Regions from separate parts of the Homo sapiens genome. Here region 2 is linked to region 1. Evidence: fine-mapped expression QTL. A gene starts in region 1. The other region holds a variant in brackets. All regions are shown on one strand. Distances are between the middles of the regions.

Region 1 (5,367 bases):
GAGCGGATCACTTGACTTGTCAAGAGATCGAGACCATCCTGGCCAACATGGTGAAACCTCATCTCTACTAAAAATACAAAAATTCGCTGGGCGTGGTGGTGTGCACCTGTAGTCCCAGCTACTTGGGAGGCTGAGGCAGGAGAATAGCTTGAACCTGGGAGGCAGAGGTTGCAGTGAGCCGAGATTGCGCCACTGCACTCCAGCCTGGCGACAGAGTGAGGCTCTGTCTCAGACAAACAAACAAACAAACAAAAAACAAAAGAAACAGTTTAGCTCTAAGCTGAGGCTTTTGCTGGACACAACCAAGATTGAAAAAGATGTGTAAATGACTTTTTTTGCATTGTGACTGTTTATCTAAAGTCCTGTCGGGGTCCCACCTACAATCTTCTTGCAGGCTACTCACCAGGGTAAGTAGCCCCCATATAGGGAGACACTTTACTGAGATGGTATGTGGCCTCCTCCCTGCCTGGGGGCCTGAGAGGAGACTGGCAGGCTTCCTACTGCTCAAGCATCCAGAGTGTTTTGTAGAGGAGCAGGAGGCAGAGAAGCCTTCCTGGAGGAGCAGGAGGCAGAGAAGCCTTCCTGGAGGAGGCAGGATCCAGTGGAGCCCTGATGGGTGGAGAGGAGCTGGAGGGCTTCCCAGGTACATGTGTGGGACCACAGCTGGGACCGAGCAGGGAGGTGGGTATTAATATGGCAAGCACAATCAGACTGGGTGGCAATGGAAGTTGGACGGGGTTAGACTGTGAAGGCAATAGGGAGCCACCACTGGTTTTTTGTTTGTTCGTTTTGTTTTTGAGGTGGAGTCTCACTCTGTTGCCCAAGCTGGAATGCAGTGGTGCGATCTCGGCTCACTGCAACCTCCACCTCCCGGGTTTAAGCGATTCTTGTGCCTCAGTCTCCCGAGTACCTAGAATTACAAGCATGTGCCACCACACCCGGCTAATTTTTGTATTTTTAGTAGAGACGGGGTTTTGCCATGTTGCCCAGGCTGGTCTCAAACTCCTAGCCTTAAGTAATCTGCCTGCCTCCACCTCCCAAAGTGCTGGGATAACAGGCCTGAGTCACCGCACCCAGCCTCACCACTGGCTTTTGAGCAGGAGAGTATCTTGGTAGTGAGCTTCAGGATCAGGAGTGCAGGGCTAAGTAACGGGCACTAACTTAGCCCCCAACTGAAGCAAGGCACAGTGAGGCTGGTACAGACCCAGGCTAGAGGGGCTATGGGGTAGGCAGGGCCTCCTCCTGAGCCCTAAGAATAGCCAGTTGGGCTCACATTCAGCATGAGGAAGGAGGAGGTTGGCATGGCAATCCTAGAGGTAGCTGGGTGACCTCGGAAAGGAAGAGCCTGGAGGTCAAGGTCTGGATCCTGATCAAAGAAAACCGAAGCGCAAAGAAGGGCCAAGGCTTGCCCAAGTCACCCAGAGGGAGTGTAGCCCAGGAGTCAGGACACAGGTGCACCGGTGTCCCTGCAAAACCTTCACCGTGCAGCTGGGGTGGGGACCTGGCTGCCCTCCAAGGAGCAGCTCCCTCCTGCTTCAGCAGAGGCCACTTGTACTACCTGCAAGCTGTATTTGGGCTGATGCGGGAAGGGCCCCAGTGAGGCAGAGAGCGGGGAGACCATGTTAGGACCTGTCTGGTTTCTCCCTTTTGCTGCCTCTCCATCTTTCCCCCAGGGCTGGAAGAGCACATTCCTGAGTCAGTTTTCCCAGGAGTCTGGATGGGGCCCAGGCAAGAGAGAGCACCGTCTCCCCATTACCAACACTCTCTCTCTATCCCCCACACACACCTCCTTGCTTTCCCTTAGAGCTCTTCAGAGGGTATGGCTGATGCAGGACAGGCCTATCCAGCTGCCTGGCTCAAGGAGAAGCTGGCCAGCTTTCCAGCCTCATGTTTTCTGGGCTCTGTGGCCAGGGAGGCCCCTCTCCACCATGCTCTGCCACTTGGCAACTCTGGGCCAGGCCCAGGTCCTCTCTGGGCTTCAGGTCCCTCATCTGTGAAATATGACGGCTTCATAGAGCACTTCCAGTGACTTTGCCAGCCTTACCTTTTGTAAGCCCCACACTGCCCTGCAAGATGGTACTGTCATTATCTCCATTTTACAGAGGGGAAACAGGTTCAGAGAGCATGAGTGGCTTGCCCCAAGTCACCCACCCAGTAAGTGGTGGGCTTGGTACTTGAACCCAGGCAGTCTGACCAAGCTGCTGCCTGAGGTCTTTGCCATCATCAATATGCCATCAATTGTCAGGTCAGGCAGGGATCATTTTCCCTTTTCTATAGATGGGAAAACTGAGGCCCAGAGGGGCAACATGTCTTGCCCAAAGGTGCAGAGCTCAGGTGGGTCTTGCGCACTGCATAAGGCCACGTTGCCATGTCCTTGAGCACCTCCACAGAGGAGCAGCCACCCCAGGAAGTAGCTGCAGACTCTACGGGGTGATACCCTCAAAGGGTGACCAGGGCATGACCGACAGCTCGAAGGAAGCAAAGAGGCTGCTGCTGGTGAAAGAAGAAGTGAAGTGAGAGTGTGGTGCCTGGGCCTGGGGTGAAGGGAGCAGAGAGAAGTGCAGTGGGGGTGCAGGTGTGGGGCAAAGGGAGAGGCCACCCACAGACGCCTCCCGACTTCCCCTTCTTCCTGCAGAAGCTACAAGACAGCAGCCGAGACAGCAGCTGAGACGGCAGCGGCAGCTTCTCAGGTCAGCCTCCTCCGGGCCTCTCCCCACTCTCCTCTGCCCAGTTCTCTGTCCTTATCCACAGGCCCCTCAGTGGGCACTGGCCATACCCATGTCCAGGTGGGCACAGACCTGGTGATATCCTGGTGAGCAAGCTGGGGACCCACCCTCCTTCCCTTTCTGGTTGGCAGCTCCACATCTGGGGCAATGTAGAGATCTGTGCTTTTGGAAGGAGGGGCAATTTAAATTAAGAAGTGGTTAGGCATGGGTCTCGAATCTTAGCTTCCCCGCGAGGTCTGGGACAAGTGAAGAGAGGTTTCTTTTCTGGACCTCAGTTTCTCATCTGTAAAATGGGGTGAGTCTGGGAACCTGCACCTTGGATGGCTGTCAGGGGCTCAGTAGAGGACCTGGCACACAGTTTGTGCTTGGCAATCTGGAGCAGGTGCAGCTCCTTTCAGAGTGACCTGGATTGGATCCTGGGGACAGCATGTCTCAGGTAAATGGACCTGCTGCTGGCTTGGTCACAGACTTCCTGTTGGGCTCCAGGGTGGCCTCTCTTTCCCAACCTGGGAAATAGGGTTACTATAGCATTTCTTAGGGCTTTTTTTTTTTTTTTTTTTTTTGAGACGGAGTCTTGCTTTGTTGCCCAGGCTGGAGTGCAGTGGTGCGATCTCGGCTCACTGCAACCTCCACCTCCCAGGTTCAAGCGATTCTCCTGCCTTAGCCTCCTGAGTAGCTGGGATTACAGGCACCAGCCAGCATGCCTGGCTAATTTTCGTAATTTTAGTAGAGGCGGGATTTCGCCACTTTGGTCAGGCTGGTCTCGGACTCCTGATCTCAGGTGATCCACCTGCCTTGGCCTCCCAAAGTGCTGGGATTACAGGCGTGAGCCACCGTTCCTGGCCTGTTAGTGCTTTTTTGCAGAGACCACAGGTTGATTGATTCCTCACCCAGGCCAGGGGCAGGGGCTCCAGACTGTGGTTGGCAGGGGCAGGTGGGGCTGTGTGCGGAGAATGGCTGGCTCAGTAGGCCTTCGTGCTGCTGGGGAGAGGTGGGCTTCGGGGGTGCATGGTCAGCTGTAGGGAGGAAGGCAGGGGTTCCCAAGCCTTGTGCTCAGATGTATTCCTGGCCAAGGACTTTGATCAGAGCCCTGGACCTTTCTCAGGGCCTGATTCCCAGGAGAGGATCAGGGAAATTGTTGTTTGAATTTCTCTTTCTGGGAAATAGATTTCCTTGGCCTCATTTTACAGATGAGAAAACCTGAGACACAGAGAGGTCAGGTGCCTGCCCAGTGTCACACAGCCTAGGCACTGAATACTGCAACTGGTTATCAAATTCTCATCTTCCAAAGGCTCTGTCCTGTGCTCCACAGCTCCTCATTTCTCTATTGGCCTAAATAGAGTCTTACTTGTCTGCAAAGCAACTCAGCTGCCCAACCATCTTTGGGAGGCTGCAGTGTGCAGGGGGTAGTGCCCTGGACCGTGGAGGCCTGGGTTTGAGTCCCAGCTTGCCCACTGGCCTGCTGTAGAACCTCAAGCAGACTCCTCTTACGCAGTATTCGGTTTCCCCACCATCAACTGGAACCATCCTGGAAGTCAGATAAGGGATTGCTGTTTCCTAGAAGGCCACAAATAATGAATTGCAGGGTGGAGAATGAAATGGCTCAGCGTGTGGGGGGATGGTGCATGGTGACCTCTCTGAAGGGATGTGGAGGGGAATTTGGAGGTTGCAAGCAGAAGTGAAGACTGTGGTTTGCTCCTGGGAAAGGGGGTGGAAACCACAGCTTCTATCTGGAGTGCCTGGGGGAGGTATCACTTCTGCTTTGGCCTCAATTTCTTCAGTTGTGTGGTAGGGTCAGGCTTTTCTTCCCTCAGTGCCTGCCTGGAACCAGTGGGGGTAAGAGCCTGGTCTTACACCTTGCAGGTCAAATCCATCTATCTCTCTGGGCCTCAGTTTCACCAACAGTATAGTGAAGGGGTGGACAAATTGGCCCAAGATCCTTTCTGTGCTGTCAGGTCCTCCACTACTGGGCCTGAGTTATCTCTCCTGAATGAGTTCCTTCAGTAGCTTCTTTTGCCTCCCCAAACCTTTCTGTTTTTTTGTTTGTTTGTTTGTTTTGTTTTGCTTTGGAGACAAAGTCTCACTCTGTCACCCAGGCCGGAGTGCAGTGTCACAATCACGGCTCCCAGGCTCAAGTAATCCTCTCATCTCAGCCTCCTGAGTAGCTGGGACCACAGGCTCATGCCACCATGCTGGGTTAGGTTTTTTAATGTTTAATTTTGTAGAGATGGGGTCTCCCTATGTTACTCTGGCTGGTCTCAAACTCCTGGGCTCAAGTGATCCTCCTGCTTCAGCCTCCCAAAGTGCTGGGATTAAGGCATGAGCCACCACACCCGGCTCCCCCAAATCTTGTCCCTTGTCTTTTCTCTGAGGTTCTGAGAGGGTAAGTAAATAGCACAGCCAAATAAATAACCAAATAACCAAATAAATAAGAACCCAGTCCTCTGTGACTCCATAGTCTCTATTTCGTATTAAAAATAAACATATATATTTAAAAAATTCATGTTAAGAAAAATGGGTGACCACCTGGAGAAAAAATGAAATTGGATTTATATCTCCCAGTGCATCCCAGTATCAATGCAAATGGACTGGAGATTTCAATTTGAAAAATGAATCTATAAAAGTACTGGAAGAAACAGGC
Region 2 (5,367 bases), 74 kb after region 1:
GGTTGCTTTTTAAATTGCCCTCCCATTACATGTATTTGTCTTTGTATTTATTGAATTATTTGATTAATTACTTCATTGATTGTTTAATTTCTTACCTTACTTCCTCATCAAGCCATCAGCTCCATGAAGGCAGGGATGGTTTCTGGGCTCTGTCAGGTATGCAGAGCCCAGCTTGAGGCCTGGCACTTGGTGGGTACTTAGGAAATGTTCGTTGAATGAATGAATAAAATACATTCACTGAGAAACTGTATGACCTAGAGATAAATCATGGACCTATGGTCCAACAGAGATATGGATTCAAGTCCTGCCACTGGCACTTATTGCTGGTGTGCTCTGGGACAGGTTCCTAAATCTCTTTAGGCCTCAGTCTCCCTGTCTATAATCCCCTATGTAATTCCCTTCAAATGATTGTTATGGGGATTAAATAAATCAATCCATGCAGTTTTAGGAATGGGCTTGGCACAGAGAGGTGCTTGGGAGTGTTGGATGCCAGTATTCTTATAAGTAAAGGGATGTGGGACTTTGGGGTTCAGGGGTTCAGGGGTTCAGAGCCTGACTTTCCATAAAAGAGGACGGGATAACTCCAAGAGGAGTTCTTGGAAGAAGGGGCATTTGAACTGGGCCATAAAGGGGGGTGGATGGCGTTTCTCTAGGCAGAGATGGCAGTAGGGAAATCAGGAGCCAGGAGGGACATCTGGTCCCAGAAAGAGATCTGCGGGCAGGCCAGGCCTGCTCCTGGCTGGTCCCAGAAAGAGACCTGCGGGCAGGCCAGACCTGCTCCAGGGCTGGGAGGAAAGCCACTGGGTGCCAGGGATACGCTCAGTATGAGCTGCCTTGTTCTAGGCCACGGCCTCTGCCCCCAGTCTTGACATTTGGTTTTCACCTGTTTCCTCTGGGTAGTTGACACACAGCAGCTGCTGACTCTGAGGAGGCATGGGGAGGCCCAGCTGAAAATGCCCCCGGAGGAGGTGACTCAGTAGCTCCTATCTCGACCCTGGCAGAACTCAGGTAACTCAAGACACGGGGCAAACCTGAAGAGGCCCCCAGAGCTGTACCAGGAAAGCTCTGCAGTGTCATGGAACACATGGAAGTGGCCTGATGCTACTGACTCACAGAGGCTTGGTGGATTGCTTTGAGTTGTTTTCGGTCACCCTCCATCTCCTTGTCTGTAAAACGGGGACAGGCACTCCTCAGAACTGCTGGGACAGTCCGGGGAGCCTTTTGGTTGGCACAGTGTGTTTCAGAGTGGTTCTCTGTCCCCCCGCCCCAGGCATCCTCATGTGATTCGCTTGAAAACACGGCAGGACGGGTCCTGTCATTATCCCCGTTTCACAGATGAGGAACACTGAGGCTCAGAGGAGGGCCCTGACCTGCTCAGTACCACATAGCTGGAGAGTGATAGATCCAGGGCTGGAGTCAGACCCCAGACAGTGCACAGATGGATGATCACATATTGACGGAACTTGGGTGTGACCACAGGATACAGAGAGTGGAGAACTGATCTGATGAACTGACTGCAGGAGGCAGGGTAATACCATGGCCTAGCTAGCCCTCACCTCTTTTCTAGAAAGCATGGTGAGGATGGGGGTGCTGATCCTAGGGCTGGCTGCGGAGCAGTGGCATGGAGACCACCTTCCAGTTGTGGCCAGAATGGAGGAAAGTTTTCCTATTGCTCTAATATGAGGAGGCAACACTGCAGACCAGAATGAGTTAAAAGGTCAGTAATTTATTTTTATTTTTATTTTTTGAGACAGTGTCTCTCTCTGTCGCCCAGGCCGGAGTACAGTGGCACAATCTCAGTTCACTGCAACCTCTGCCCCCTGGGTTCTAGCGATTCTCCTGCCTCAGGCTCCCAGGTAGCTGGGACTACTGGTGTGTAACACCATGTCCAGCTAATTTTTTGTATTTTTAGTAGAGACAGCATTTTGCCATGTTGGCCAGGCTGGTCTCAAACTCCTGGCCTCAAGTGATCCACCCACCTCAGCTTCCCAAAGTGCTGGGATTAGAGGCGTGAGCCATTTCGCACAGACCAAAGGTTAGTAATTTAAATTCTCCTCTGGATTTTGATGTGGCAGATGTTTACTGAGCACTTAGCCACGTGCCAGCCATGGGTGGTAGCACTTAGCATTGTCTCATTTAGTCCTTACAACTCCATGGATAGATACTGCTATCACCCCCATTCTGCAGATGAGCAAACCAAGGCTAAGGGAGATAAACCAACCGGTCAGTGGAGCCGGGTACCGACCCAGACGGTCTGCTCTAGAGCCCCATGGCTAATCACGCCTCTGCTGCCTGCTCTGTGGGCTGTTTTCTAAGTAAATCTAAGGCCCTGGTACCCAGTAGTTGCTGTGCAAATATCGGGTTAGCGGATGAATACATGAATTAGTGAAAAATGGCCCAAGTAAAATAACCTGTGAGTAGGAGGTGATTTTAGAGACCATTTAGTCCTCCCTGTAGATGTGGTAAGTGTCTTATCTGCAACGCCCTAGCTGCACAACTCCTTGGCTTCCCTCTGAGACAGGTAGCTCACCCCCGACCTTGTGGGCAGCACCAGCTCTCAGAGGGAGCAGAGAGGCTGAGCCCGCGGCCCTGCTGGAGCACAAGATGTCAGAGCTGGGGACCCTTCCTGCCCCTCCACACCTCCTATGTGCCCCAAGAGGGAAGGAGTCTGCATTTCCTGAGGCCCTCCACTGAGTGGGGATGAGGGGTGGGCAGGCTGAGACTGGGCTTACCCAGGGCTCAATAAGGGGCCTGGAGTCCTGGTGGGAGTTCTGGAGTCAGACTGCCTGGGTGGGATCTCCGTCGCGTTCCTGAACCCCCTGTGCCCTATCTGTAAAACCCGCATTATAAAGTGGCTCCCTGAGGTCAGGAGTTCGAGACCAGCCTGGCCAACGTGGTGAAACCCCATCTCTACTAAAAATACAAAAGGTAGCCAATTGTGGTGGCACATGCCTGTAATCCCAGCTACTTGGGAGGATGAGGCAGGAGAATTGCTTGAACCCAGGAGGCGGAGGCTGCAGTCAGCCAAGGTCACATCACTGCACTCCAGCCTAGGGGACAAAGCAAGACTCCATCTCAAAAAAAAAAAAAAAAAGAAAAAAAGTTATAAAGTGGCTTCCGCCTCTCGGGGTATGGTGAGGAGTCTGTGGGCTGATTCCTGTAATGGGCCTAGCACAGTGCCTGGTTGCCAGGATTACATAATAGCTATTATTATCATCTGCAGCCACCAGACATAGAACTGGACACTCTCCGGCTCCACCCCTTCATCCCAGGGGTGCTGGGCTAGGTCCCGGATTGGTGGTGAGGGAGGAGTCCCAGAGCCAAA[G/A]CCCTGACCTCACAAATGCTCCCTAGGTACCTGATGAAGCAATTTCCTGACCCTGTCTCTTTTCTTCCCTTTATTTATTTTATTTTATTTATTTATTTTTTTTGAGACAGAGTTTCACCTTGTTGCCTAGGCTGCAGTGCAATGGCACGATCTCAGCTCACTGCAACCTCCGCCTCCTGGGTTCAAGCGATTCTCCTGCCTCAGCCCCCAGAGTAGCTGAGATTACAGGCATGTGCCACCACTCCTGCTACTTTTGTATTTTTAGTAGAGACGGAGTTTCACCATGTGGGTCAGGCTGGTCTTGAACTCCCGACCTCAGGTGATCCACTCGCCTCGGCCTCCCAAAGTGCTGGGATTACAGGCGTGAGCCACCACGCGCAGCTTCTTCCCTTCACTTTTAGAAGGCAAACAAGGCAAAGGCATGTGCCCTCATTTACTAGATGATCTGAGGCACAGAGAGGTTAAGAAACCTCCCCGAGTGTACCTAGTGAGTGAAGGTCCCAGCCCAGGGCCTCAGGCCCAGCCCCTGCTGCTCCATCACAAGCCAGGGACCCTGAGGCCAGAGGTCATGGGGGATGGAGCATGGGTGTCAGGCGTGGCGGAGTTGCCAGCGGGTAGACAGGAAGTCACTGGGACTCCCTTGGTGTCCTTATCAGGGTGGGTGACATCTCTGGGGCTGTGGGGAAACCCCGGAGCCTAGAGGTCAGGCTGTCATCCTGCAGATCCCCCTCTCTCTGACACTCCTTCTCCCTTCTGGTACCCCAACCCTGTCTGTACTCAAGCAGGAGACTCGTAGGGCAGAGCAGGCCTGCAGGCCCATGGGTGCGGCAAAGGTGGCATCGACTGTTGGGAATTTGCCATGGGGAAGAGGGGCAAGAGGGAGCTGGGACTGGGAATGCCAGTGGGGTCTGGGCTGGTCTTCAGGAATGGACCTGGGCTGTGGCCAGCAGATAACCCTTCTTTACTGCCTTGGGGAGTCAGAGAGGGCTCCAGTCCAGACCTGGATCCACCTCTGCTCCCATCTGACCACCTGTCCACATCCCTGTTTCACCTCTTGCATCTCATCTCTACCTCAGCTCCTTTGTTCAGCCACAGAATCAAGCTGGCCTCCTCCTCCTTGCTCCTTAAACACCAATCCCTGGTCTCAGGGGATGTCCCAAAGGCCGCTTTCCCCACTATATTCAGTCCGTGCACAGGTGTCCCTTCCCAGAGAGCATCTAAGCTGCCCATCCCACCTCCATCACTCTTTCCCCTTTCCTGGCTTATTTTTGTTCCATAATTCTTACCACTGGATTTATTTATTTATTTGAGACTGAGTCTCACTCTGTCACCCAAGCTGGAATGCAGTGTCGAAATCTCGGCTCACTGCCACCTCCGCCTCCGGGGCTCAAGCAATTCTCCTGCCTCAGCCACCTGAGTAGCTGGGACTACAGGCATCTGCCACCATGTCCGGCTAATTTTTGTTATGTTTAGTAGATACAAGGTTTCACCACGTTGGCCAGGCTGGTCTTGAACTCCTGACCTCAGGTGAGCCACCTGCCTCGGCCTCCCAAAGCACTGGGATTATAGGCGTCAGCCACTGCACTCCGCCGCCACTGGATATTTTTAATAATTACTTGCTTATTCATTTCTTGTCTCTCCTACAGTTCTGAGGGCAGAGGTTTCTATGTTTTCTTGGCTGCAGGATCCCCCATGCCTGGCACAGGACCTGGTGCACAGCAGGCCCTCAATAGACACTCGCTGAAGGCGTGGTGCATCCCCTGCCTGTCCACACTTTCATCCATCCACCGTCTGTGCTTTCTTCCCACACTTCCTCACCCATCAATCACCCAGAATTTCTCGATCCCAGGCCCTGTGCTGGTTCTTGGGTTTGGTGCGCTAGCAGGGCACACGGATCAGGAAAGAAAGAATTCCGACACTTAGGGATTGGTCCCAGCCAAGGGGGAGCCTGGGGGACTATGGGAGAAACAGTGGGGTGAGGGGAGGTGAGGGAAGGTTTATAGGGTGCATTGAGGTGCATGCAGCACCTCGCACCAGGCGTG

What was found. PIP is the estimated chance that this variant, and not a neighbour inherited with it, causes the effect.
Region 2: its variant is the best candidate, but not a certain one, in a credible set for the expression of ADGRG5 in blood mononuclear cells (TOPMed, PIP 0.55).

What each region holds. Positions count from the first base shown.
Region 1 is chr16:57,540,012-57,545,378 of GRCh38, forward strand. ADGRG5 (adhesion G protein-coupled receptor G5) reads left to right here and starts at 2,632. Exons shown (of 12, transcript NM_001304376.3): 1 at 2,632-2,690. RefSeq lists enhancers at 2,412-2,581, 4,086-4,395 and a silencer at 3,976-4,025.
Region 2 is chr16:57,613,817-57,619,183 of GRCh38, forward strand. No RefSeq gene overlaps it. Among named protein-coding and RNA genes, the nearest start is that of ADGRG1, 12 kb to the right of the region's middle. RefSeq lists enhancers at 775-824, 945-1,004. The variant G/A (reference allele first, on the strand shown) is at 3,326.